7 linked regions of the Homo sapiens genome follow. The protein of the gene in region 7 interacts with the protein of the main gene of each other region in a biochemical or structural test. Each region holds a gene or a part of one and is shown on either strand. Other genes may lie near its edges. The genes, in order: JAM2, SCN5A, NCBP2L, GNG4, ABCC6, FAT1 and APBA2.

Region 1 (2,903 bases), on a different chromosome or scaffold from region 7:
CCCATCTCAACAATAACAGCAAAGAATTTAAAAGGAAGTCAGCCTGGGGGTAGAGAAAAACATGGTGTGTGAAACATCCTGGATCAGACTGATCTGGGTCCCCACAGACCCTGATTCCTCACTCCTCAGCTCCATGAACTTGACAAGTCAGTAACTCTTGTTTCCTCATCTGCAAAATGATGACATTACCCACTTTATAGTATCGCTGAGATGAATGAGATTTTCTACATCCTCACCCCCATCCATCCCCACCTCTGACATATATAAAGTGTTCAATAAATAGTTGTTGCTTTTTATTTTCAGAGCATTTTTCTCAGCATTTGAGAAGTTGGCAGCCATCCAGAGATGATGACATTCTAATCTTAAGCAGCTAACCAGCAGCTAGCCTTGTAGCTACAGAAGGTAAGAGGGTGTAGTTTCCTGGGTTTTATGAATAACAATAGGTGGATGACTCTTTCCCTGCACTGTTATATGGGGCTAAAAAGTTTAACAAGTTCAGCTATTTTTATTAGTGTAGACTTTAATCGAACAAAGCCACCTGTGGAAAAAGGAAGTTCTTTGCAAAGTTGTATTGAAAAGCAATCAATTGGTCCAGACTTAGGTCAAACCTCCAACTAAAAATAAATTAAATCTAGTTACAACAGCAACAATAATTAAAACAAAACAAAGCTTGCTAATAAGATTTTAAAGCCCTAATCTTTACACAACACAATTCACTGCAGGAAAATAAAGTCAAAATGCTGTAAGAATTACAATGGGATTTTACCAGTTGTTAGTGTTCAAGTTCCTCAAGTAAACACAAATGCAAATACAAGTCTGGACACCAGTGACCCACAGATACATATATATACTTTTAATAGGAAATTAGTGCTCAATACTCTGCCCTTTGTGTGGGGGAAAACATTCTTTTATACAAGGATTTTTACCTAGCTATTACAATAGTTTAAGGTAATGTACAATATATATTTGACACAGAGAGTGTTATTAGATGTTCGCACTGCATAAAATGAATCCTCTAGCCTTTGATGTCTTAAAAAGAAGTTTTACAACTATTAGTGAAGCTAAGGCACTACATATTTTCCTTCCACAATATGGATTTGTGTCATTTAAACTGAAGAAGTTGATCTTGTGTGATGACAGGTATGTCTGAAGAGGCGTCTTTCAGAGTCATCTATCCTCTTGGCATGCCAATGCAAGAGGAAAGCATTCCTCAAACCAAAGAAATCTTCCAACCAAAACATAGGTAACATTTAGCCTGATTTCTTACAAAAGCTTGTAGACAGGTGTTTTTTTCTGTACTTCACCACCATGAGTTGGGAATCTATGCCTGTGGGCCAAATCTTGTCTGTGCCTGCTGTTTTTGTAAATAAAGTCTTATTGGAACACAGACATGACTACTTGCTTGTTTTGTCTGTGGCTGCCTTTGTGCTACAATGGCAGAGTCAAGTAGTTGTTAACAGGGACCTTATGACTTAAAATATCTACTTTCTGGCTCTTTACAGAAAATGTTTGCCGATCCCTGACTCGTGGTGAAAATTTTATTTTGGGGGCAGAGCCATGTTACAGAAGCCCGACCTCCAGGAAGGGATCTGGTGAGAGACATAGCATGTCATAGACAAGTCAAAGGGGGAGCATCTTCCCGGTGGCCTGGTGTCCAGGCACATGCTAGGCACTCAGTGGGTGCTTAATCCATTTGTTCGGTGAATCCTGGGGATTTGCTTCGCCAATTGGGTAGAAAGAGCAGACTCTTTTGAAAGAAGATTAACCTGCCCAGTGCAGTGGCTCATGCCTATAATCCCAGCACTTTGGGAGGCTGATGGGGGTGGATCATTTGAGGTCAGAGGTTTGAGACCAGCCTGGCCAACATGGTGAAACCCTTCTCTACTAAAATACAAAAATTAGCCAGGTGTGGTGGTACACGCCTATAATCTCAGCTACTTGGGAGGCTGAGGCAGGAGAAGTGCTTGAATCTGGGAGGCGGAGGGGAGGCGGAGGTTGCAGTGAGCCAAGATTGTGCCACTGTACTCCAGCCTGGGCGACAGAGTGAGACTCCGTCTCAAAAAAAAAAAAAAAAAAAGAAAGAAGATTAACCATCATGTTCATAGTTGTCAAAGGTAGCAAGTGACCTTTTCATCCACATTTGCCCAGAAGAATAGGACATGCCCTAGCCATATTTTGTTTTTAATATCAATTCAGTAATTAAAAGAAGTTACAAATGATATGAATTTTTAACATAGTCTAATTGCTCTGGTAAACGGATCATTGGAATTTTCACATTGTAATAGTAGCTGGAAGCTTTTGTGGTTCATCGGTTGAGAAACCCACATTAGATCCACTTTTCGTTTGAGCCATTGCTCATGTGCCCACTGTGTTTCAAGAGGGGTACCAGATGCAGGGAGTCATACTGAGCTTTTTCGTCTCATTTTCCTGGTAGACTATTACTTCTTCCCTCCACATCCCTCCTTGTCCAAAAGCAGAATTGTCAACCCCTGACTAAGGGACTTGGCCCGGAATGTCACTGCACAATTTTTAGAGACAGAAAGATGTGAAGTCACCACTCCTGCAGGGAAAGGTATCTGCAAACTTGTGTAGGCTCCAGTGGTGAGTTCTGATGTCAAAGTCACTGATCCTCTTCAAAGAAATCTTACAAGAAGGAAGCAGTGGCAAGCAGCAGTAGGGGTGAAATAAGCCACTTGGGTTTGTGTTTGACCATCTAAATTACGTTTAATGAAGAAATCAGTGACACACACCAGGCAAATCCTGTGGTGCACACCTGTGGGCTCCAGCCATTAGGCATTTCTTTTGATGTTGCTTTTAGTTCCCAGGAATGGAAGTAAACACAAAGTGCAAATCCTTGGGCATAAGACCCATCCCGCTTCCTCCTTTCTGTGGGTGTGTTAGTG
Region 2 (3,500 bases), on a different chromosome or scaffold from region 7:
CAGACCCACCCTGGAAAAGCTAGAACCACAGCTGGGATTACCATTGCTCTGGGACCATCTTCTGAGTCAGACTTGGGGAGCCTGTCCTCCCCACACTCCTCAGTTCCTGAAGACATCCGTTTTCTCCTCTTGCTTCTTCTCTCATGGCTGTTTACTGGGGCCAAAGGGGACATCTCCAAGGAGCTACGGGACACGGTATCCACACCCCTGATGGTGAGGGCCTGGAAAAGAGTGGAGGAACGGACGTTTCCATCATTGAGACTTTGTGCAGCCTCAGGCTCAGGCAGGCCAGGCAACTCTCAGTGACTTGGTTTTCCCTATCAGTAAGTGGACTTGCACACCTACCCCAAAATGAGGACATCATGGAGATAAACTCAGACAGACCCAGAATGTTTTGGGAAAGATCAAGATCCAGGAAGGAAGATAGGAGTGGCTAAAGTGGGCAGCCTCGGAAGACTGGAGTGTGTGGAACAGGTGGGAGGTGGGTGTAGATGAGCAGAGAAGTGGCAGAACCAGAAGGCAGAGGCTCTTCTAGAAGGTTTAGCTGGCCAAAAGTGTACTGGAATATGTGGCATGGGGTAGTGAGAAGAACAAGTGGATGCTTCTAATAGCTCTGGCTTCTAATAGCTCACTCTATAGCCAGCCTCCAGGCTCCACCATGTGGGGGACTAGGGATGGCTAGGGCAGCATTGTCAGTGCTTATTTTCTGAGACAGCTCTGTTCTCTGACATTGGACCTTCTTCACTACCCCACCAGAAGGCATCCCTTGACCAGAATAAACTATGTGCATGTATACATGCATCTCTTATCCAGCATGCACTATGCTCACAGGGACCATCTTTACCCAGGAGCTACCACCCAGCAGGCACCATTTTTACCCAGCTGGCGCCACCTTCACCTGGAGGACATGACGACCATAGGGAACAAGTTTACTCAGCACAAGCCACACTCATAGGACCCACCTTACCCAGCAGATGTCACTTTTACCTAGTAGGCTCCTCACTAACAGGCACGTCTTAACCCAGCAGGTTCCAAATTTTTACTCAGCGATACCACATTCACAGAAAATATCTTTACCCAGCAGGCACTGCACCATGCCCACAGGCACTGGCTTTACCCAGCATGCACCATGCCCACAGGCACCAGCTTTACCCAGCATGTACCACGCCCACAGGCACCAGCTTTAACTGGCATATACCCCACCTATAGGCACCTACAGTCAGGTGAGGGCTTAGAGGCTCCTCGGTGGCACTGCTCACCCACCTCGTGTTCTTTCTTGAGCATTTCCATGGCCTCCTGGAAGCGCTTTTCCTTCTCCTCGGTCTCAGCGATGGTGGCTTGGTTTTGCTCCTCATAGGCCATTGCGACCACGGCCAGGATCAGGTTCACCAGGTAGAAGGACCCCAGGAAGATGACAAGCATGAAGAAGATCATGTAGATCTTCCCTGCGGACCTGAGGGTCTGGGGGAGCAAGGGGGCAGAGGTCACCCTCACTGGGGCCCCTTCTGGGTTATGGCATTTCCAAGTCACCTAGTCTAGTTGTGCCAGGGGTTCAAATAGCCATAGCCTAGGGAGGAGGGTAGAGATGTCCCACCTATAGAGAGGGACATGTACTGACCTGCAGAGGAGAATGACCTGCACACAGCGGGACTGTGTCCCACCTGAGGAGGGAGGCAGAATGTTCCACCCAACTCAGGGCATGCTGTGCCCACAGAGGGAGAATATTCCATCCTACAGGGAGAAAGAGTGTCCCACTCACAGAGCAGAGAGCATCCTATACAAAGGGACTGGTACTTCATCACCAGCAAAAAGAAAGTTTCTTTGCTGCTGATCCCTTCTCCCTCAGAAGCAAGGGTCCTTGTCCCCTGTCCCCTCCAAAGCTCCCACCAGTGGGGAGGCTGCTGGGGCCACTTCTGGCTAGTCACTTGTGTAGCCTGGACCCTGAGCCCACACTTGCTGTCCCTTGTGGGCACACACACACCTGCTGATAGAGGCGCTCCCAGCAGTCCTGCGTCATCAGGCGGAAGAGTGCAAGAAAGGCCCAGGCAAAGGAATCGAAGCTGGTGTAGCCGTGGTCGGGGTTCTCGCCTGCCTTTAGGCACCGGTAGCCCTCCGGACATGTCCTGCAGCCACACACAGAGACTTTGTTCCATGCCGTCAGGGGTCTGCTGCCCTTGAGACCCTTGCTGGGCTGGACTTGTCTCCCTGGGCAACCCAGTTTATGCCCCACAGCTCAGTGAAGCTGAGCTTCACAAACCTAGTGCCACGCTGCTGGATCCTGCCTCCGTGACTTTGTTCGTGCTGTGCCTCCCACTGGGACACTATCTTCCTCTTTACTCTTCTTATATGTACTCTGCTAGGCCTAAATCAAGCTCCCTTCTGCCCATACGTCACACCATCCCCAGCTACTATCAAGTTGCCTCTCCTCACAGAGAGGAAGCACACAAGCCTGGCTCATGTCTCTTCCTCTGCCCATCTACCCCATGAGGAGTTGAGTACAGCATGGGCATGGGGGAGAGCAGGGTTGGGGAGAGCAGTGAGCCTCGGCTGAGCTGAACAGGATGAGCCCAGGGCAAAGGCAGGGCCATGGGGTTGAGAAATGATTCTGGAGGGGATGGGCTGGGGCTTGGCCATGTCAGGAGCTCATTTGCACAACTGTGCACACAGCCACTGGTTCACTGAGGCAGATTCACAGTTCACAGAGCTGGAGGTGGTAGCCTCTCTCCAAAGAGGAAATGCTGGTCTGGAGTCATGTGTGCATGTATGTGTGTATGACACACACACACACACACACACACACACACACACACGAGGGACTTAGCAAGTGGATGGATGCATCCAAGGGACCTCTGTGTCTTGCTAATGCCCCAAGACCCTCCAGACAATCTCTTTGGTGACAGGAAGGAGGCAACAAACTTGGTACTTCTCCTTTGAGGTGGCCCTCTGTGACCCCCTTCTCCAACACTCCATGGCACTGTCACAGTGATCCAGGCCCTGGTGTGCACAGGGCCCTGGAAGCTGCACATGGCTACTGGGCATCTCAAGGAAAGTCCAGGCTGCTGGAGAAACCACATTTGCTCCAAGGGACAGATCAGCAGCAACGGAGGGAAGACTGGAGCTGGAGGGAGCAGTTCTGGGGAGCTTCTGGAAGGGAATGGAGCTGGGGGTGGGCTGGTTGGGGGGCTGTAGAAGGCATCCCAGGCTATCCCTCAGTCCCAGCCCACCTTCAGGGCTCCGTTAGCTCTCCCTGCAGCTCTGTCCCTGACCTTTCTCCAGAAGCTGTCTCCTCTGTGCTGGGGGCAAGGTGGGGAAGCTGGGGAAGGGTCCTGGCAGGTAAGGGAGACAAAAGAAGGCCTCGCTGTCCCTGGGGTCAGGGCATAAATAGAAAATACAGTCAGTTGAGAAAACACCAGGAGACTCCCCTGGCAGGACAAGGAGACCCGGGGTGGTAGGTGCCACATACCCAGCGTCAGAGCTGTTCCCACACAGTAACACATCAG
Region 3 (3,500 bases), on a different chromosome or scaffold from region 7:
ACTTTCAAGCTCAACACGTGGCAAAAGGACAGATTGATGGATATTGGGAAAGATAACTGGCATGGGAGCTTTGTTTTATAATGTGGGGCATCCTCTACTTTATTCTTCTCTTCACTTGTTTCTCCATTCATTCAATCAACATTTATAGAGCACTATGTTAAATTCTGGGGAAACAATAAAAAGTAAGATGCAGCCCTTTCCCTCAGGTAGCTCACAATCTGGGGAGATGGACAACTTAACATACAAATTGCAATGCAATGTAATTATTCTAATCACAGGAGCACACAGTAGGCCCAGAGGTAGCACAAAGAAGGGAGTACAAAACTACAGAGGAGGATGAGGAGGGGAAAACAACTTTCTAAAGGACCTGATTCCTGAGCTTTTTTAACAAAAAATTTACGTAGTATTTACTTTTTTGAATAGTGAATTCAGATTTGTGTTACAAAATGCAGAATGTACAAATAGGTGGAAAAAGGAAGTCTTCTTCCCACTCCTGTGCCCCAGCCACCCAATCATTGTCACTAGTTTCTTGTGTATCTACCCAGACATAGTCTGAGTCCAATTTTGAAAGCTGAATAAAGATTTGACTGGAAGACCAAGGGGTCATTCTAGGCAGAGAGAACAGTGTGTATGAAGGCATGAAGGCGTGATGGGGGGTGTTCAGTCTGACGTTATTTGGGCAAAGAAAATAAGGAAAAGATGATAGGAGATAAGATTGGAAGGGTAGGCAAGGCCAGATTGTGAGGGGCCTTGTAAGCCTTGTGGAGCAGCTTGGACTGTACCAGTAAGCAGTGGGAACCATGATAGGGCTTCAAGCAGAGGAGTGATGTGATCTGATTTGCATTAGAGAAAATGCATTCTATCACAGTGTGAAGGATAGACTAAGGGGGAGCAGGCCAAGAGGCAGGAAGACCAGTTACGGAGCTATTTGAATGGTTAAAAAACAAAAAGATTATGGAAAGCCTGGACTAATAATATGCTGTAGTAACATAAAGGAAACACATCTCAGATAGATACTTAGAAGACAGACTGAACAGGTCTTGGTGACTGGTTGAATGAGAAATTCAGGATGACTACCGAGTTTCAGCACTGTGTAGATAGAGGTCAACTGTGTAGATAGAGGTCTGAGTCACCAAAATGGTGTCAGTTGGGCAGACAGAGGAGGAAGGGCAGATTGGAATAAAAAAGATGAATTTGGAACATACTGAGTTTGGTCTTGAGGTACCTGTAGGATGTGCCATATTACACGTGTCAAGTATTAACTAGTATATGGGTTTGGAGCTCTCAAGAGAGGTCTGTGTCTGGGACCACAGACACAGATTTGGGGCTCAATAGGATGGTAGATAAAACCATGGGTATGGATGAGATGATCTAGGGGAAAGGTGAGGAATGAAAAAACCTGGGAAAGACTGGCATTTAAGGGGTGGCAGACGAAAAGTCCACAAAACAGCATAAGAAGGAGTAATCAGAGAGGAATGAGGACAGTCAGAAGATGTGCAACATCACCAAAGCCAAGGAGTAGGTCATGAGAGTCATGAGGACAGAAGTAGGGTGAGAGCAATCAATTATGTTAAATACATCAGAGAGAGGTCCAGTAAAATAAAGACTTAACATTGTTCATTAGATTTGGCAATTAGGATGTCATTGGTTTACTTAAAAGAGAAATAACAGTGGTGTTCTGGGAACAGAAAAGCCATAGTGGGAGCTGAGTTTTTAACAGGAGGTGAGGAAATGGAGAGTGTCTACACTTTAGAAAAGATTCCATAACAATAAAAGAAGAGAAATAGGGCAAATGCCAGTTGGGGATAGAGGCGAAGGAAAATTTGTTTGTTTCTTTTTTTAGAGTGAAAGTTGATCATGCCTGAAGGTTGATGGGAAGCAGCCAGTAAGTAGAGAAGGAGTTGTTGAAGACACAGATGAGAGGAGGGATAACTGATGAAGTAAGTCCTCATGGAGGTGAGAAAGAATGGGCTCCAAAGCATACGTAGAGAAATTAGCCTTGAACTGGAGAAGCTATGTGTATTTCTGCAAGCCCAAAAAAAAAAAAAAAAAAAAAAAGAGGTTAGGACATGTAGGGACACAACTATGTGGCAGGGTGGGGTTAGGACAGGAAAATGAGTGTTAGCATCCAACGACCTAGATTTTCATAATGGAATAAGAGGTGAGATCATCTGCTGAGAATAAAGTGGATCATTGAAAATAGTTGGTGAAGCAGAGTGGAGGTAAAATGATTGAAAGGATGAAGCTTATAAATGGGTCATCTATGAGGACATTAAGATCACTCAGGATGGTGGCTAGAGTTGGGGTGGAAAGGAAGACTATCAGTGAGGAGGTGAAGTCCTCAATAGGTGAGAGAACTAAAGTACAGCAGATGATAGTAGGAAGGATTGGAAGAGGGTGGCTGTACCATCTCCAGGCCCCATGGGGTAAGAAAGAACAGAGAACCTCTACCACTGAAAACAGAGGTTTCTAGTTGATGTTAGGTACCTGACCCAAAGTAGGTACTCACTAGATGTGAAGAAGTGAGTTACTCTTTTTTAAGCTGGTATGATCATGAAATTGCATCAGACCATCACAAGGAGTGGCAGTCCCAATGTGCTCCATGCTGGTCAAACTACACAGCGAGCACTACGTTCCATTTCGAGGTACTGTATTTTAAAGTGAACATTTACAAATCATAGTGCATCTGATGTTTATTGAATGAATGAAGGGTCAAGAAGTAACTGAGGACTGATTAGAAATTGGGGATGTTTAGTCTAGCAAAGAGATGGTTAAAGGAGGATATGACAAATGTCTTGAAATATTGAAAGTGCTATTTCTGCTCCATATGATAAAAGTAAGATTAATGGATAGAAGTTAAAAACAGAAGATTACAATTCTTTTTTAGCAGAGTTTTTAATTCATCCAGTGATAGAATGTGAACTTACCTAATCTATTCATGTGGAGGCTGCAATGAACACCTACCTGCTAAAGGTGTTAGAAGGGTCACCCCCAAGGTTAACATCCCCAAAGGTTAAAGAGAAGATAGAAAAGCAATCCAGTTGCCAGGGACCACAGATCACCAAGTTGATCTGTAAACACTGTGAGAGAATATTTCCTACCTAAAAAGTAGAGCTTGGTTGGAGTGGAAAGCTTTCCTTGACTCTTGCTACTGGAGAAAATTAGTCAGAGAGTCTAAAAATAGAAGAAAAACATGAAGAATGGCTCAAAATGATCAGTCAAAATCCTAAGAGGACGGAGGAGAGGAGGTGGCAAAATAAAGTAAATTATCTTCCAGGAAACAAACTTCACTGGGCTTTTGGAGTTGGCAGGACTCTGCAAAGAATCTTTTCAATGGTTGCCTTAAACTAATGCTGGGATTGTTTCAACTATGTGAAAGGAACAAGGATCTGGACTCTTTAAAAAGCCAGGCTACTTTCTGCTCCAGATGAAGGCAGTAGCTCTAAGAAAGGAAATTAGAAAGCGCTGGGACAGTAGTGTTACTACATGCCTTACCTTTA
Region 4 (3,500 bases), on a different chromosome or scaffold from region 7:
AGTGAGTCCAGGGAAGAGGTGTCCACGTACAGAGGGGACAAGCCCTAGGGTAGGCTGTATTGTGTGCACGGCCTACAACATGGTCATGCCCAGGCTGGAGGGAGGGTTTGTGCAGATCTAGGAGACTGGTTCGAAGCGGGCCTCCAAGAAGGGGAGGCTGCCCTCGCATGGCAGGCCAGCATGGAGACAGGACTGAGGGCTGGCAGGAGGCCCAGACAGCCTTGATATATTCTCGAGTAGGTGAGGAGTGGAGGTTCCAGGACAGTAGTCTCACAATGACTTTGCTAAACCGTTTCTGGAAGACTAAAGCAGAAGGCAGCCCCTGGCCAAGCCAGTGTGATCATATTTATTATCATTATTAGTTGTTTTATTGCAATCCACTCTTGTGACCAACACAGAGAGACACTTCATCCTCCTCAACAGAACTTGTATTTAGCTATATTTTATAAGCACACGTTTTATTTTTATTCATTTTTCATTTTTATTTCTTTTTTTGAGGCAGAGTCTCGCTCTGTTGCCCAGGCTAGAGTGTGGTGGCGTGATCTCCGCTCACTGCAACCTCCATCTCCTGGGTTCAAGTGATGCTCCTGCCTCAGTCTCCCAAGTAGCTGAGATTACAGGCACTCACCATGCCCAGCTAATTTTTGTATTTTTAGTAGAGATGGGGTTTCACTATGTTGGCCAGGCTGGTCTCAAACTCCTGACCTCAGGTGATCTGCCCACCTCGGCTTCCCAAAGTGCTGGGATTACAGGCATGAGCCACCGTGCCCAGCCAGCACACATGTTTTAACTTGGAGTGGCCACTTCCCTGCGGAGAGAGGTGCTCCTGACCAGAAAGTTCTTTCCATTCCATTTCTTTCCAGGCTTATCTGAAGCCTGCTGGCGCATGGCAGTTGTGCATCAAACTGTCCCCAAGCTCAAGGCCAGAGGAAGAGCAGGTTGGGAGAGGGCGGGGTGCGGACAAGCATTTGCTAAGAGGGAGAGGCAGTTACCAGCTTATTTTGTTCATGGTCTGTGTCATGTGCTTGGCAGATAAATGGCCTGTGCATTAACTCATCCTGCCAATTAGGCTGTTCTGCCTGCGAGTATTTATTAGCGGATTACAGGCAGGGGTAAATACATAGCAGTCAAATGAAATCCTTTTAGTACATTCAATGTCTAAATCTTCCCCAGAATGATAAAAATGTTCCACAGATGAAGAAAAAAAATGTTTAGAAGCCTCCAGCTACACAGGCCATACACATTCCCTTCTGGGTTTTAAAAATTGGCTCATCTTTCAGCATTTTACAGAGATTCTTCTGATTTTCAGACCTAACCGCTTTAGCAATGGCTAGAAATAATTCCAGCAGAGATATACAATGAATCAACTAAACACATCACTCAAATAAATCAACTTGAAGTTTAGCAGATGAGTTAGTCTAAATCCTGACAAAACCTACATTTGTTAAGAATGTGGCATGGAGAAATGAGTTCCGGTGAACATCAGGCTTCTAGATCTACCCCCGCCCGTAAGCTAGCTGTGTGACCTTGGGTAAGCAGCTCAACCTTTCTGAGCTTCACTTCCCTCATTTGTAAAATTCAGGAGCGTTGGAGAGCTCTAAGGTCCCAATTTACTCTAAGACGTCTATGATTCTACCTTTAATAGCATGGTCAGTATTTAAGATCCTAAAAACGTGTATGTTGAGTTGAATAGGAGTGTTTGAAGTTTGCAGTGGGTTACAGGACGCCCATATAGGAATTTCCCAGATGGGTGAGGCTCAGGGGAAAACTGAGCCTGTGGGGGGCCTGTGAAGCCATCACAAGGAGCAGGAGCACAGGCTTAAGGAAATGGACTCTGAGGCCCACAGGGCTGCGATGGACACACAAGAGAATGGAATCACATGGTGAGTGCTGCAACTCAAAGCCGGTGGACTTGGGAGATTGAGCCCTCCCTTGCTGCCACCTTCTAAGGAAAGCCAAGTGCCCTCCCCAACTGCTGGAGTGATGACCTCCTTAGTTTCCACTCCTGGCTTCTCACCATGCCCAGAGATGCAGAAGCTGCTGAGGTCTGGGGTCTCCCTCATGGCCACCATGTTAGGACAGCCACTAAATTCATCCATTGACCCCTCTGGCAACCCCTGGGCAGTGGTCTTCACTGCTGCCTGGGCAGCACACACAAGGGCTGCAGTGTTGGAACAACCACATTCCTCCTCTAGGAGCCACTGTCCTCTTGGGTTTGCTAAGTCTAGGCCCCTGACTCCAGTGAGCTCTTCTGGGAGTTCCGTTTAAGAATGGCTCGGCTGGACGCAGTGGCTCACACCTGTAATCCCAGCACTTTGGGAGGCCAAGGCGGGTGGATCGCCTGAGGTCAGGAGTTCAAGACCAGCCTGGCCAACATGGTGAAACCCCGTCTCTACAAAAAATACAAAAAATTAGCCAGGCGTGGTGGCGGGTGCCTGTAATCCCAGCTACTCAGGAGGCTGAGGCAGGAGAATCGCTTGAACTCGGGAGTTGGAAGTTGCAATGAGCTGAGATTGTGCCACTGCACTCCAGTCTGGGCAACAAGAGTGAAACTCCATCTCAAAAAAAAAAAAAAAAAAAAAGAACGTCTCGTCTGACTATCATGCCCTCTCCAGTTTTCTAGTTTTCACTTTTCCCATCTACTTCATTTTTTTTGGACATGCTCCAGTTTCATCTGAATTCTCTATAATCCTCGTTATGTCATTCAGAAAGGAAGTATTCACTATCTACCCTTTAGCTAATTCAGAGGATGCAAGAGAAAGAATAAGGCAACAGTTTTGCCCTCTAGAAGATCTCACTGTGATCTCAAACATGATGAAGTCACTATAATAATCCATGTGTGCTGAAATGTCACAAAAGAACACTTGCACGCCACTGTGGATCCATGATGAGAGGCCAGGAGACGGGGCATCTGACAACCTGTCCAGTCCCAGACAGTAGAGGACACCTTGGTGAATCTGCCCCCTTTCTTCAGAGGGCAATCACTGGACTTCTGGGCCCAGAAACACAATTTCCTGGCACACTCAGAATAGATCATCTCTTGTGGCTGACCCATATTAAACAAGCTCAGGAGGCAGCTGGATAAAACCATAATACAAATAGAAGCTAACATTTACATTTACTGAGTGCTTCTCAGGTGCCAGCACTATGCTACATGCATCAGATGTATTATGTCATTTAATTCTTCTTATACGTACGACTCTAGCCTGGGCAACATAACAAGACTCTACCATAAAATGAAAAAATTAGCCAGGCATGATAGTGCACACCGGCAGTCCCAGCTACTTGGGAGGCTGAGGCAGGGACATCGCTTGAGTCCGGGAGTTCAAGGCTGCAGTGAGCTGTGATCGCACCACTGCACACCAGCCTGGGTGGCAGAGCAAGACCCTGTCTCTAAAAAAAAAAAAAAAAAGTAGAATTCCTTATTTATAATTGACAAATAAAAATGGAATATATTTATGGTGTACAACATGATGTTTTGATACGTGTATACATTATAG
Region 5 (3,500 bases), on a different chromosome or scaffold from region 7:
GATGGAGTGCAGTGGTGCAATATCGGCTCACTGCAACCTTCGCCTCCCTGGCTCAAGCGTTCTTCCCACCTCAGCCTCCCAAGTAACTAGGACTACAGGTGCATGCCACCATACCTGGCTAATACTGTTGTCCACAGAGATAGGGTCTTGCTATGTTGCCCAGACTAGTCTCGAACTCCTGGGCTCAAGCAATCCTCCTCTCTCAGCCTCCTGAAGTGCTGGGATTACAGGCATGAGCCACTGTGCCCAGTCCACACTTGACATTTACCAAAAAAAAAAATCCTATATTATAGTCCCAGTGAGTGGTGAGGTTACCACCCGATATCAAACAATATTTTCATAGCAAAATAAATACTGAGCAAGAGCAATAAAGGCTATCAGTAGCCCTGTGTCAGTTGAGGTTGGGTTTTGCCACCAAGTAAATATAGAAGACTAACTGCTAATTTAGGGGGGAAAACCTTGGTATTCAGAGACTGTGTCAGAGCTTGGAATTGCAGATAAGAGACATGTGGTTATTAATGTAACAGAGTGATAATCCTATCGGGGGAGGCATTTCCTGAAGGCCCTTGGGGAGGGCATGGCCATCCCCTCCTCTCCCACCTGCAGGTCCCAGCCATGGTGGGACGACCATACCTCAGGTCCTCGCCTCGGTCAGCACACTTGTACTGCAGCTGGCCGGGCAGGCTGGCCACCAAGGCTTTGAGCTGCACCGTCTCCAGGGCTGCCCAGATAGCCTCGTCCGAGTGCTCCTGCAGCAGGTCGAGGTTCATCCGCAGAGAGCCAGGGAACAGGATGGGGTCCTGGCGGGGAGGGGCGGTGGGTCAGAGCCGGGTCCCACCATGCCTCCCATCTTTGCCCACCCCCTCCACCAGCCTCACCTGGGGGATGATGCTGATCCTGGAGCGCAGTGTGTGCAGCCCCACGTGGGCAATGGGGACCCCGTCGATCCAGATCCCACCCTCAGCTGCCTCCTGGAGCCGCAGCAGCCCACTGGCCAGGGAGGACTTCCCTGCCCCGGTCCTGCCAACGATGCCCACCTGCCCGGGGTTGGGAGGAAAGGCCTGCTCTGACCAGAGGGTTTGTGGGCATTTATTGGGGAGATCTTTCTGCTGTACCCGAGATCTGTCTATCCATCCCTCATTGTGTAAAGGTCTACCTTCCATCTCTCTTTCCATCTGTCTACCTTTCTATATATCCACCCATCAATCCATCCAGTCTTCCATCTGTGTTCTTCTCTATCTTTCCCTTATCCTGATATCTCTCTCCCATCTTTCTCCCCACCCTTCCTTTAGTTCCTCCATCTTTCCTCATCCTTCTATTTACACCTCTCCATCATCTCTCATCCTTTTTTCTACCCCATCCCATCCATCTGTCTGTCCGTCCATCCATCCCTTATCCTTTTTTCCACCCCATCCTGCCATCCATCCATCCATCATCCATCCTCAATCCCATCCCTCCATCTCTCTTCCACCCCATTCCATTCATCCATCCATTCATCTGTCTATCCGTCTCTCGTTTCTTCTTCCCTATTCATCCATCAATTCACTAATCCTTTCATTCATTTATTTTCTCCCATCCATCCATCCAGTCCATCCTTCCCTCATCCATCCTTCCATTCATCCTCCATCTTATCCATGTGTCCATTCTGTTATCCATCTCCCATGCTGTTATCCACCCTCCATCCTTATCTCTCTTGCTACTATTGCATCCTCAGTGTCTGACACATGGTGTGGGTTCAACATTATTTGTTTAATTAATGATGGAAACATGTGGGTCACCCCACTGTATGCCAAGTACCTGTTTAGGCACCGGAAGTATAGAAATTAAAGAGTCCTTGCTCCAGTGTGCCCATCATCCGGTCTAGGAAACAGTGCAATTGAGTAAATGTAATACAGTGTGATGAACAATGCTTTATTTATTTATTTATTTATTTATTTTTGAGATAAAGTCTTGCTCTATTGCCCAGGCTGGAGTGCAGTGGTGCGATCTCAGCTCACTGCAACCTCCACCTCCCAGGTTCAAGCAATTCTCCTGCCTCAGCCTCCCTAGTAGCTGGGACTGCAGGTGCCTGTCACCATGCTCGGCTAATTTTTGTATTTTTAGTAGACACGGGATTTCACCATGTTGGCCAGGCTGGTCTCAAACTTCTGGCCTCAAGTGATCTGCCCACCTTGGCCTCCTAAAGTGCTGGGATTACAGGTATAAGCCACAGCACCCAGCCAACAATGCTGTTTATTATCAAGGTCTGGACCTCTGGCAATTAAGGGAAGCAAGGCAGTGCTGCTCATGCTGCCTGGGATTTGACAGAGGTAATAAGAGAAGACCTCATGGAGGAAGGGATACTTGCATGGAAGCTTGAAGGATCAATAGGAGTTCAAGGAAGGGGAACACTCCAGGTAAACCACACCAAGTGGGTTTCCAAAACTAGAAGCTCATGGAGCTCACAGCACCATGTGCCCCCCTGGCCGAGAGGCAGCTGCTCCACAATGTTGGCTAAGCCCTGGCAGAGCAATGAATGAGAGGGGGAGGTTGGCAGGGCCTGGGTTGGGTAGAGCCTTGAATGCCAAGCTCAGGAATTCACACTTTACCCCAAGGGAAGCTGGAACTAGTAGAAGGTTTTGAGCAGGGGAATGACATGCAGTGTCATTCATGCTGATAAAGGTCACAGGATGGCTGGGCATGGTGGGTCATGCCTGTAGTCCCAGCACTTTGGGAGGCCGAGGGGGGTGATTGAGGTCAGAAGTTTCATAGCAGCCTGGCCAACATGGTGAAACCCTGTCTCTACTAAAAATACAAAAATTAGCCGGGTGTGGTGGCAGGTGCCTGTAATCCCAGCTACTCAGGAGGCTGAGGCAGGAGAATCACTTGAATCTGGGAGGCGGAGGTTGCAGTGATCTAAGGTCACACCACTGCACTCCAGCCTGGGCAACAGAGTGAGACTCTGTCTCAAAAAAAAAAAAAAAAAAAAATCACAGGAGAGCAGATTGGAGCTGGTGAGACAGGATCCACTGCTTTTTAGGGGACAAGGAGAGGACAGGGAGGAAGCCTCTGTAGGTTCAGAGGGAGGGAGGAAAGGGATTCAGTGAAGGGGCCTGATGAGGCATCTGTAAAATGGGATAGTACTAGCACCTCACTTAGGGGTTGTTGTGAGAGTGAAAACGCAAATAATAAAAGCATTAGTAAACATTTCTGGAGCACTTTCTATGAGCTAAGCATGTTCTATGTATTAACTCAAACTTCACAACAACTCAGAGATCAGTATTACCAGTCCCAATTTACAGATGGGAAAACTGAGACTGAGCTATGAAGTGCTTTTCCCAATGTCTCCCAGCTGAAAGCAAATATCCCATTTGTGCAAACTGGAAAATGTACCTGGAGCATTTAACACACTGCCCAGCACATATTAGGTGCTGGGTTAATGTTAAAGGAAGAAGGAAGTCACGGAGTTGCTTCCTCATCTGGGGACACCAAGGTGGATGAGGAAGTCACCAGATGGAAGC
Region 6 (3,500 bases), on a different chromosome or scaffold from region 7:
ATAAGAACAGCTTGTAATCTCATTTCAAAATGTATCCTGAAATTATATTATTTCTGTATAAGAATGGTTAAGTTCACTCCCTACATAATGTAAGGGTTTATTGTCTCATTTCGCTCTATGTAACTACTTAAAAGTATTAAAATAATTATATCAAGTATAATACTTATCAGCAACATAAGCCCCAAAGAAAGGCAATTTACAAAAGAAAAACCAGAATTCAGCAGCCTGATGTCAAACAGCATTTTTCCTCTCTAAGTCAGTGAAGCAAACTTTACCAACTATATCAATGTTTTATCACCACTGCTGTCAACAACCAGTTGTTCACAGAATGTCTCCTATCTTCAGGGCATCGAACAACCTGTCACCCTGGGCCCCTCCATGAGAAGATGACACACACACACAAAAGCTAAATCTTCTAAGCTAACACACGTCAAGGGTCAAATCAGTCTATTAATACATGGTGGCAGACTCTGCAGGACAGTCCCTGGGTGACTGGCGGAGAAAAGAGAGAAACTGAAGAAATGAAGAAAACGTTGCCTTTAACAATGACAAATGGGAAGGTGGGCGAAGTCCACTGGGCTGAGGTCTGGCCAGGGAAGCAGGACAGTTATTTTCAGATCAACTGTTCCCCTTTGCCAACAAATTCATCTTGTAAATCAACACAGCTTCACAAAGGACAGCACTGTCATCTTGCAAAGTGACTCTCAAATTAATATTCACAAAATGTGAATGCTACCAGAGGTAAATGAAGAGCAAACTGGAGGGTGGGTTTGACAGCCCAGTTGAAATTGGTACGACAACATTAATTTATAGTATCTTAACTTAGCTACTGCCAACTCTGCCCCATAAGTCATTGCCTTAGGGGGAAAAAAAGACCTGATGTGCTTAAAGCAATTAAAGCTTAATTGATATTGAACCACGTTCAAGTTGGCCACCCTAACTTGTTCTTTAGCTATGATGCCTTCTCCTCTCCAGATAAAGTCAGAAATTAGACAGATTTTTGGCTTCTAGGAGAACAATTATCATTTAAACAAAATAAGAAAACAATTTTCTCCCAAAACTATCTCTTTAAGTATCTCCATTTAGTCAACAGTTCTAATACTCAGGGAAATTTGAATATTATAAAATAATCTTGTAATTTTATCAAAACAAATAAAAAGTTCAACCTACAGGTATGGAGGACCTTATCAGACAGAACCTTGCATGGTGTTAAGGAATAAAAGACAAAGATCCCAATCCCAAGGGATTTACAAACTAGAAATAAAAATACATATAAAGAGGCTGGTCACGGTGGCTCACACCTGTAATCCCAGAACTTTGGGAGGCCAATGCAGCCGGATCCCTTGAGCTCAGGAGTTCGAGACCAGCCTGGCCAAAACATGGTGAAACCCCATCTCTACTAAAAATACAAAAATTAGCAGGATATGGTGGAGCAAGCCTGTAATCTCAGTTACTCCAGAGGCTGAGGCAGGAGAATCACTTGAACCCGGGAGGCAGAGATTGCAGTGAGCCGAGATCGCGCCACTGCACTCCAGCCTGGGCAACAGAGCTAGACTCTGTCTCAAAAACAAAAAAACAAAACCAGAAACACTTGGATGATGTTTAGCAAGCAGTGTCTTTTGTTTTAGGAGTCACATTATGTTTTAGGAGACATTTTTACCATCATCCATTGTACAACAAAATATTATACCAGGATTCTATTGCAAGTACTAGAAGTATTTTTGCTTAATTCTACGTATAAAGTTATCATGCAGCCATTAAAAGATAGCACTCTGTATGTTGACATATGTCTAGCTATATAAACTGGAAAAACGAAGCTGATCCTATTTATGTTTATTTAAAAGAGAGGAGAAGGGGGGTAGATACAATGTACCCACGGATATACTTTAAAATGGACAGAAAAGTCTAGGCAGACAAGCAACTGTTAACAGTGGTAACTTCTGGAGAACCGGTAGAGAAACAGGTAGCTGAGGGAATGATTACTGTGGCATTTTTCTCTACTGTGGTTTTTTTTTAGCATGAGTATGTGTTGTCTTTATCATCCACTCACCCCTTTCATTAATTATTTAATTCCTTTTACATAGGTTTAATGAGCATCTACTATGTATCAGGTGCAGTTCTAGACGCTGGGGATTCAAAAGTGAACCAAATTACCAACAAGTCCTGATGGAAGATACATTTCCTGGCCAGACACAGACAGACAAGTAAACAGAGTATATCCGATGCTGATAATTAAGTGCTAAGGAGAAAACTAAAGCAGGGCAAAGAGAGACCAGGGTCAGGAACCTGAAGGAAAAGAGGGAACCCTAAATCCAAAGGGTCAGGGCTTACACTAGTGACATGCTGGGCAACTCTTAGATTCTTTGGGGAAACGTAGAGTGTTCAATATGATTCCTGGTCCCCACCAGCATGAAGCCTGTGGCATCCCCCTCATCACCCAGCTGTGATGACTAAAAATACCTCTATCTCGAGACATTGCCAAACACCCTCTAGGGCAGAAAGTCACACCCCGCAGAGAAGCACTAGATTAGGGAAGCCAGAAAGAGACCACGTGGCTGGAGCACAGCGGTTGAGGGACAGCGGTAAGGCCGGGGCACATCCTGGGAGAGAACCTATCATGAAGGGGGTTCTTTTTAAAAATAAACCTTATTTTAGAATGCTTTTAGACTTACAGAAAAGTTGCAAAGAGAGCTTCCCCTACTGTTAACATCTCACTTTAGTACATTATACTAGATACAACTAACAAACCAGTACTGACACATCATCAACTACAGTCCATACTTCACTCAAATTTGCTCATTTTACCCAAGGCCTTCTCTCCATCCTAGAATCCCTTCCAAGACACCACCTTACATTTAGCTGTCATGTCTCCTAAGGCTCCTCTGGAATGTACGTTTCTCAGATTTTCCTTGCTTTTAATGATCTGGACAGTTTCCAGAAGTACTAGTCAGGTATTTTGTAGGATGTCCCTCAACTGGAATCTGACGTTTCTCTCCTGATTAGATTGGGGTTCTGTTTTGGGGAGAAAAGCCACAGAGGTAGAGTCGTTTCCACCACACCGTAGCAAGCGGGTAAAATCAACACGATTTATCGATGTTGACGCTGCTCCTGACCACGTGACTGAGGTAGTATCTGCCAGGTTTCCTCACAGTCAGGTTACTTTCACCCCTCCCTGTACTGTATTCTTGGTAAGGAAGTCACTGCATGTAGCCCATTCTTAAGAGACAGAGAGTTTCGCTACTCAAAATATTTATAATTCTTCTAGAAACTGATTTGTCTATCTTCCTCCATTTATTTATTCAATTTTTTTTCTTTTTTAGACAGAGTCTCGCTCTCTCACCCAGGCTGGAGTGCAGTGGCGCGATCACGGCTCACTGAAGCTTTGAGCTTTCCGGGCCCCCGTCTCAGCCTCCTGAGTAGCTGGGACTATAGGTGCGTCTGTAGATTTAGACTGACAGAATTTTACATACTCAGGAACCACCAGCACGCCTGGCTCATGT
Region 7 (3,500 bases):
ATCCGACTAACTTTTCTATTTTTTTGTAGAGATGGGGTCTCCTTACGTTACCCAGGCTGGTCTCAAACTCCTGGGCTTAAGCGAGCCTCCCTCCTCGGCTTCCCAAAGTGCTGGGATTACCTCATGAACCACCATGCCCAGCCTTCAAATCAGAATTCTAAGGAGCCTAACAAGCAGCAGGCCTTTCCAGTTATGGCGCATGAAAGTAACAAAGGCAGCCTCAGCCAGCATCCAGCGCAGTCCCAGCAGACAGAGATAATGAGGTGGACATGGGCCTCATGGGAGGGAATACTGCCCCCCACCCCCATGCCATGCCAGTGAGAAAAACAGACTGACTGCAGCCCCAAAACATACAGCAACTTACCCACGAAACAGGAACCTCTGATGCCTGACATTATCAGGTAAGAGATATTTCTGGCCCAGCAGCCCCCAGAGGATGAACAGCTCCCTCCGCCTGAAAGGGGAAGAGGGTCCAAGCTGCAGGCGCCCTGGCACATCGAGGCCATGGACAGGAGGCACCCGAATGTCTCCCCAGAGTACCCCTGCTGCAGAGGCCTCTGGAGCCCATCATCCTGCGGCACTGCTGCTCCCGCTCTCTTTCCCAAGCCCTGTGCAGTCCCCTCTCCTGACGCAGGACCAGAAAGCTACTGGGAGCCCCGTAAGGACAGCCTGCGTGCCCAGCCAGGCTGAGGCCAGCCACCGGAGGCCAGCAGCAGGGAGGCCACACCTGCGCTGTCACCCACACCCCTGCACACTGGAGCTGCCTGGGGACCCAGGCCTCCCTGTGTGCCGAGGGTAAGTTGGCGGAGCTGCACAGGTTAAGGCTGGGTGAGCCAGTTAATAATGTGATGAACGGTTTGTCATGGATTTTGTCGTTCTTTTAGAAAAACAGGGGCAAGTTAATCTAGAAATCCTGTAAATCTCTAAAGGGTAAAATTAAACGTCCTCACTAGCAAGGCTGGGACTTGGCAGCAGCAGCCGCCTCCTACAGAACATAGGGAGCGGGCTCTGGAGCCCCCCAATGACGCAGGAGCTGCCTTGGCCAGACACCTGCCCCCGCCACCCTCCTGTGTTCTTACTGAGCCCCTCCCCACCCCATGCAGTGCATCTTCCACCAGCACCTCCCCGCACCCTCCCCTCGCCTCTAGATGCACCCCTGAACATGCCCCTAACGGCGTCCTTCTCCCACGCTCTGACCTGTCTGCTAGGGAAGCCAGCTGCAGAAATCACTCTCCTAGAGTTCGCTTGGTAAACTATGCGTTGTTATTGGCCCATCTGCTTCGCTCCCAACCCACAGCAAGGACTCTCTAGGGCCACCAAGCTCCTAATCGTCAGCAACTGCCCTCCAACCCCCATCTCCAGCTCTAACCTACACAAACCACATAGTCCCCCCTGTGCCCAGGGTGCCCCATTCCAGGCTGGCCCTTTGCCTGGAGGGCTCTTCTGGCCTGGGCTCTGAAGGGGTAAACCCACCCACTCTTATAGGATGGGGTCCATGATCCACCCCAACCTACCATGGGGCTCTCACATCTGCCAGACTGTGCCTCTCTAGGAGGGCCTTGGACCCAGAGCCAGAATGGGGCTCTGATGCCACTGCACATTCTCCAGCAGCCCCCTCCATGCCCTCCCTCCTGATCCCACCCAGCTCTAAACTGGGAACAAGAAAGCTGGAATACAGTAGCTGCTCAGAAAATACCTACTGAGTAGATGGGTGGATGGATGGACAGAGCTCCAGGCAAAGGGACTCGGGGGTAAGAAAAGTGAAGGGTACCTGCCCCCGGTTCTACCACTGCAGAGTCCTTGAGTGTCAAAGGACTGAGAGGTGAATGACAGGCAAGGTGAGACCTACCATGTTAGTGTCCCGCACCCCTTTGTTTCCACTATTAGATTAAGCCACCCTATGTGACAGATAAAAGGAGTAACACGTACGGAGTTAGACCAGGGTTGCCAAAGTGAGGGGTGGGAATGCTGCCAGTCCAGGGGTCCCCCACGGCAGCTCCCCAGACGAAGTCAAGGCAAGTTGGAGATGAGGCTGCCTCTAGGTGTATCAAATCAACTGAAGCAGCACCAGTCGTCAGTGCTGATTAAGCACAGGCACGCCTGTGATCAAGAAGAAAACCATTACTTAATAAAATGCAATTAATTTAGAAGCTGAAAACTGCGAAAGCCCAAGGGAGAGACATAATCAGGAGTTCTTGGTCTGGAGGGGCTTCTGCTCTCAAAGCTTCCAACCCAACACAGCACAAAGATGTCTTCCCCAACAACCGCACATCCAACCTGCAAAACGATGACACGCTCCTCTCCAAGTACCTGAACCTTAGGACTCAAAGGGTAGAGAAAGTTCACAGGCAGAATCTTCACAATACATGCACAAAAGAAAGGCACTTCTACTAGGAGCTGTGGGTCAGGAAAACCTCGACTTCACCCAATGCCATTCCCGAGACAATCAGCCATTAATGTGACCCACTCAGTCCTGCCTCAGGGGCTCAGAATCTAGCAGTCAGGCCAGATGGGAAGTGCAGGGACCTGCGGCCAAAATCGGTCCATTCATCACCCAGCTGACGGCTTTCACAAGTACTAGCCAGAATCAGTAAGAGGCTGGAGGTAGTGCCAGGTGTCTGAAACCCAGCAGGCAAGTTGGTAAAACACACACACACCCTAAACCTGGTGACTGCACTGACTGAGTGCTTTACTGTAGCAGAACAGTTGCACACATCTCATCTCCTCCATCCATAGTAACTCAGTGGCTGGTGAGGAATGGGACACAGATCTCCACGTGCCCTTCTCAGGATGAGTCAAGACAAACTCTGAGCAGTGACGCTCTACAGCTGGCTCACACGTGGAGGCAAAGCCTGGCTTCCCAGAGCTTCCAGTTCCTAACACATGCCTGGCCCCACTGCACCACACCCGTGACAGCTGCCACCAGCTCCGGATAATCCAGACAGATGCTAGAGCACATGGCTCACTTATTACAGCAAAAGACTGAGAAACAGAAACTATGTTTTATTTGCACAAGGCACACACTTGCTTCCAGAGAGACCTGAGAAATCCATCATCCCTAAATGCACGCATTCACTCAATTAGTGGTTTTCCTGTTTTTGCAACAATGGATTTTTCCAAGACAGTTGACAATTAAACCAACGGTGGGAAACCATAAACTGTACTTTACTAAATTAACAATGCATACAACAGTTCGGAGGAATTCATATTTACAGCTGCCCTGCTGGAGAGTCAATTCCAGGAATGTAAAACCAACCAAATAAAAAAAATTTTATATATATATACACATACATACACACATATATACGTACACATACACACACACACACACACATATACACACAGTTATGCATCGCTTAATGGCAGGGATGTGTTCTGAGAAATTTGTCATTAGGCAATTTCATCATTGTGCAAACATCATAGAGCATACTTTATACAAACCTACTCCACACCTTGGCTATAGGTTACAGGCCATTGCTCCCAGGCTACACACCTGGGCA

What was found.
Region 1: the proteins of APBA2 (region 7) and JAM2 interact in a test that uses a peptide from one of them, tested with the Homo sapiens proteins (one large-scale study listed by IntAct).
Region 2: the proteins of APBA2 (region 7) and SCN5A interact in a test that uses a peptide from one of them, tested with the Homo sapiens proteins (one large-scale study listed by IntAct).
Region 3: the proteins of APBA2 (region 7) and NCBP2L interact in a test that uses a peptide from one of them, tested with the Homo sapiens proteins (one large-scale study listed by IntAct).
Region 4: the proteins of APBA2 (region 7) and GNG4 interact in a test that uses a peptide from one of them, tested with the Homo sapiens proteins (one large-scale study listed by IntAct).
Region 5: the proteins of APBA2 (region 7) and ABCC6 interact in a test that uses a peptide from one of them, tested with the Homo sapiens proteins (one large-scale study listed by IntAct).
Region 6: the proteins of APBA2 (region 7) and FAT1 interact in a test that uses a peptide from one of them, tested with the Homo sapiens proteins (one large-scale study listed by IntAct).

What each region holds. Positions count from the first base shown.
Region 1 is NC_000021.9:25,715,160-25,718,062, reverse strand, and holds the end of JAM2 (junctional adhesion molecule B isoform 1 precursor), read right to left. Parts: 3' UTR 501-2,903; downstream 1-500. UniProt on the Homo sapiens protein: Junctional adhesion protein that mediates heterotypic cell-cell interactions with its cognate receptor JAM3 to regulate different cellular processes. Plays a role in homing and mobilization of hematopoietic stem and progenitor cells within the bone marrow.
Region 2 is NC_000003.12:38,604,688-38,608,187, forward strand, and holds part of SCN5A (sodium channel protein type 5 subunit alpha), read right to left. Parts: coding exon 3,464-3,500; intron 2,124-3,463; coding exon 1,982-2,123; intron 1,462-1,981; coding exon 1,264-1,461; intron 222-1,263; coding exon 42-221; intron 1-41. UniProt on the Homo sapiens protein: Pore-forming subunit of Nav1.5, a voltage-gated sodium (Nav) channel that directly mediates the depolarizing phase of action potentials in excitable membranes.
Region 3 is NC_000023.11:107,787,733-107,791,232, reverse strand, and holds part of NCBP2L (nuclear cap-binding protein subunit 2-like), read right to left. Parts: intron 1-3,500.
Region 4 is NC_000001.11:235,552,285-235,555,784, forward strand, and holds part of GNG4 (guanine nucleotide-binding protein G(I)/G(S)/G(O) subunit gamma-4), read right to left. Parts: intron 1-3,500. UniProt on the Homo sapiens protein: Guanine nucleotide-binding proteins (G proteins) are involved as a modulator or transducer in various transmembrane signaling systems.
Region 5 is NC_000016.10:16,153,995-16,157,494, forward strand, and holds part of ABCC6 (ATP-binding cassette sub-family C member 6), read right to left. Parts: intron 1,861-3,500; exon of another isoform or gene 1,798-1,860; intron 1,038-1,797; coding exon 879-1,037; intron 801-878; coding exon 634-800; intron 1-633.
Region 6 is NC_000004.12:186,710,357-186,713,856, forward strand, and holds part of FAT1 (protocadherin Fat 1 isoform 1 precursor), read right to left. Parts: intron 1-3,500.
Region 7 is NC_000015.10:28,892,474-28,895,973, reverse strand, and holds part of APBA2 (amyloid-beta A4 precursor protein-binding family A member 2), read right to left. Parts: intron 455-3,500; exon of another isoform or gene 365-454; intron 1-364. UniProt on the Homo sapiens protein: Putative function in synaptic vesicle exocytosis by binding to STXBP1, an essential component of the synaptic vesicle exocytotic machinery. May modulate processing of the amyloid-beta precursor protein (APP) and hence formation of APP-beta.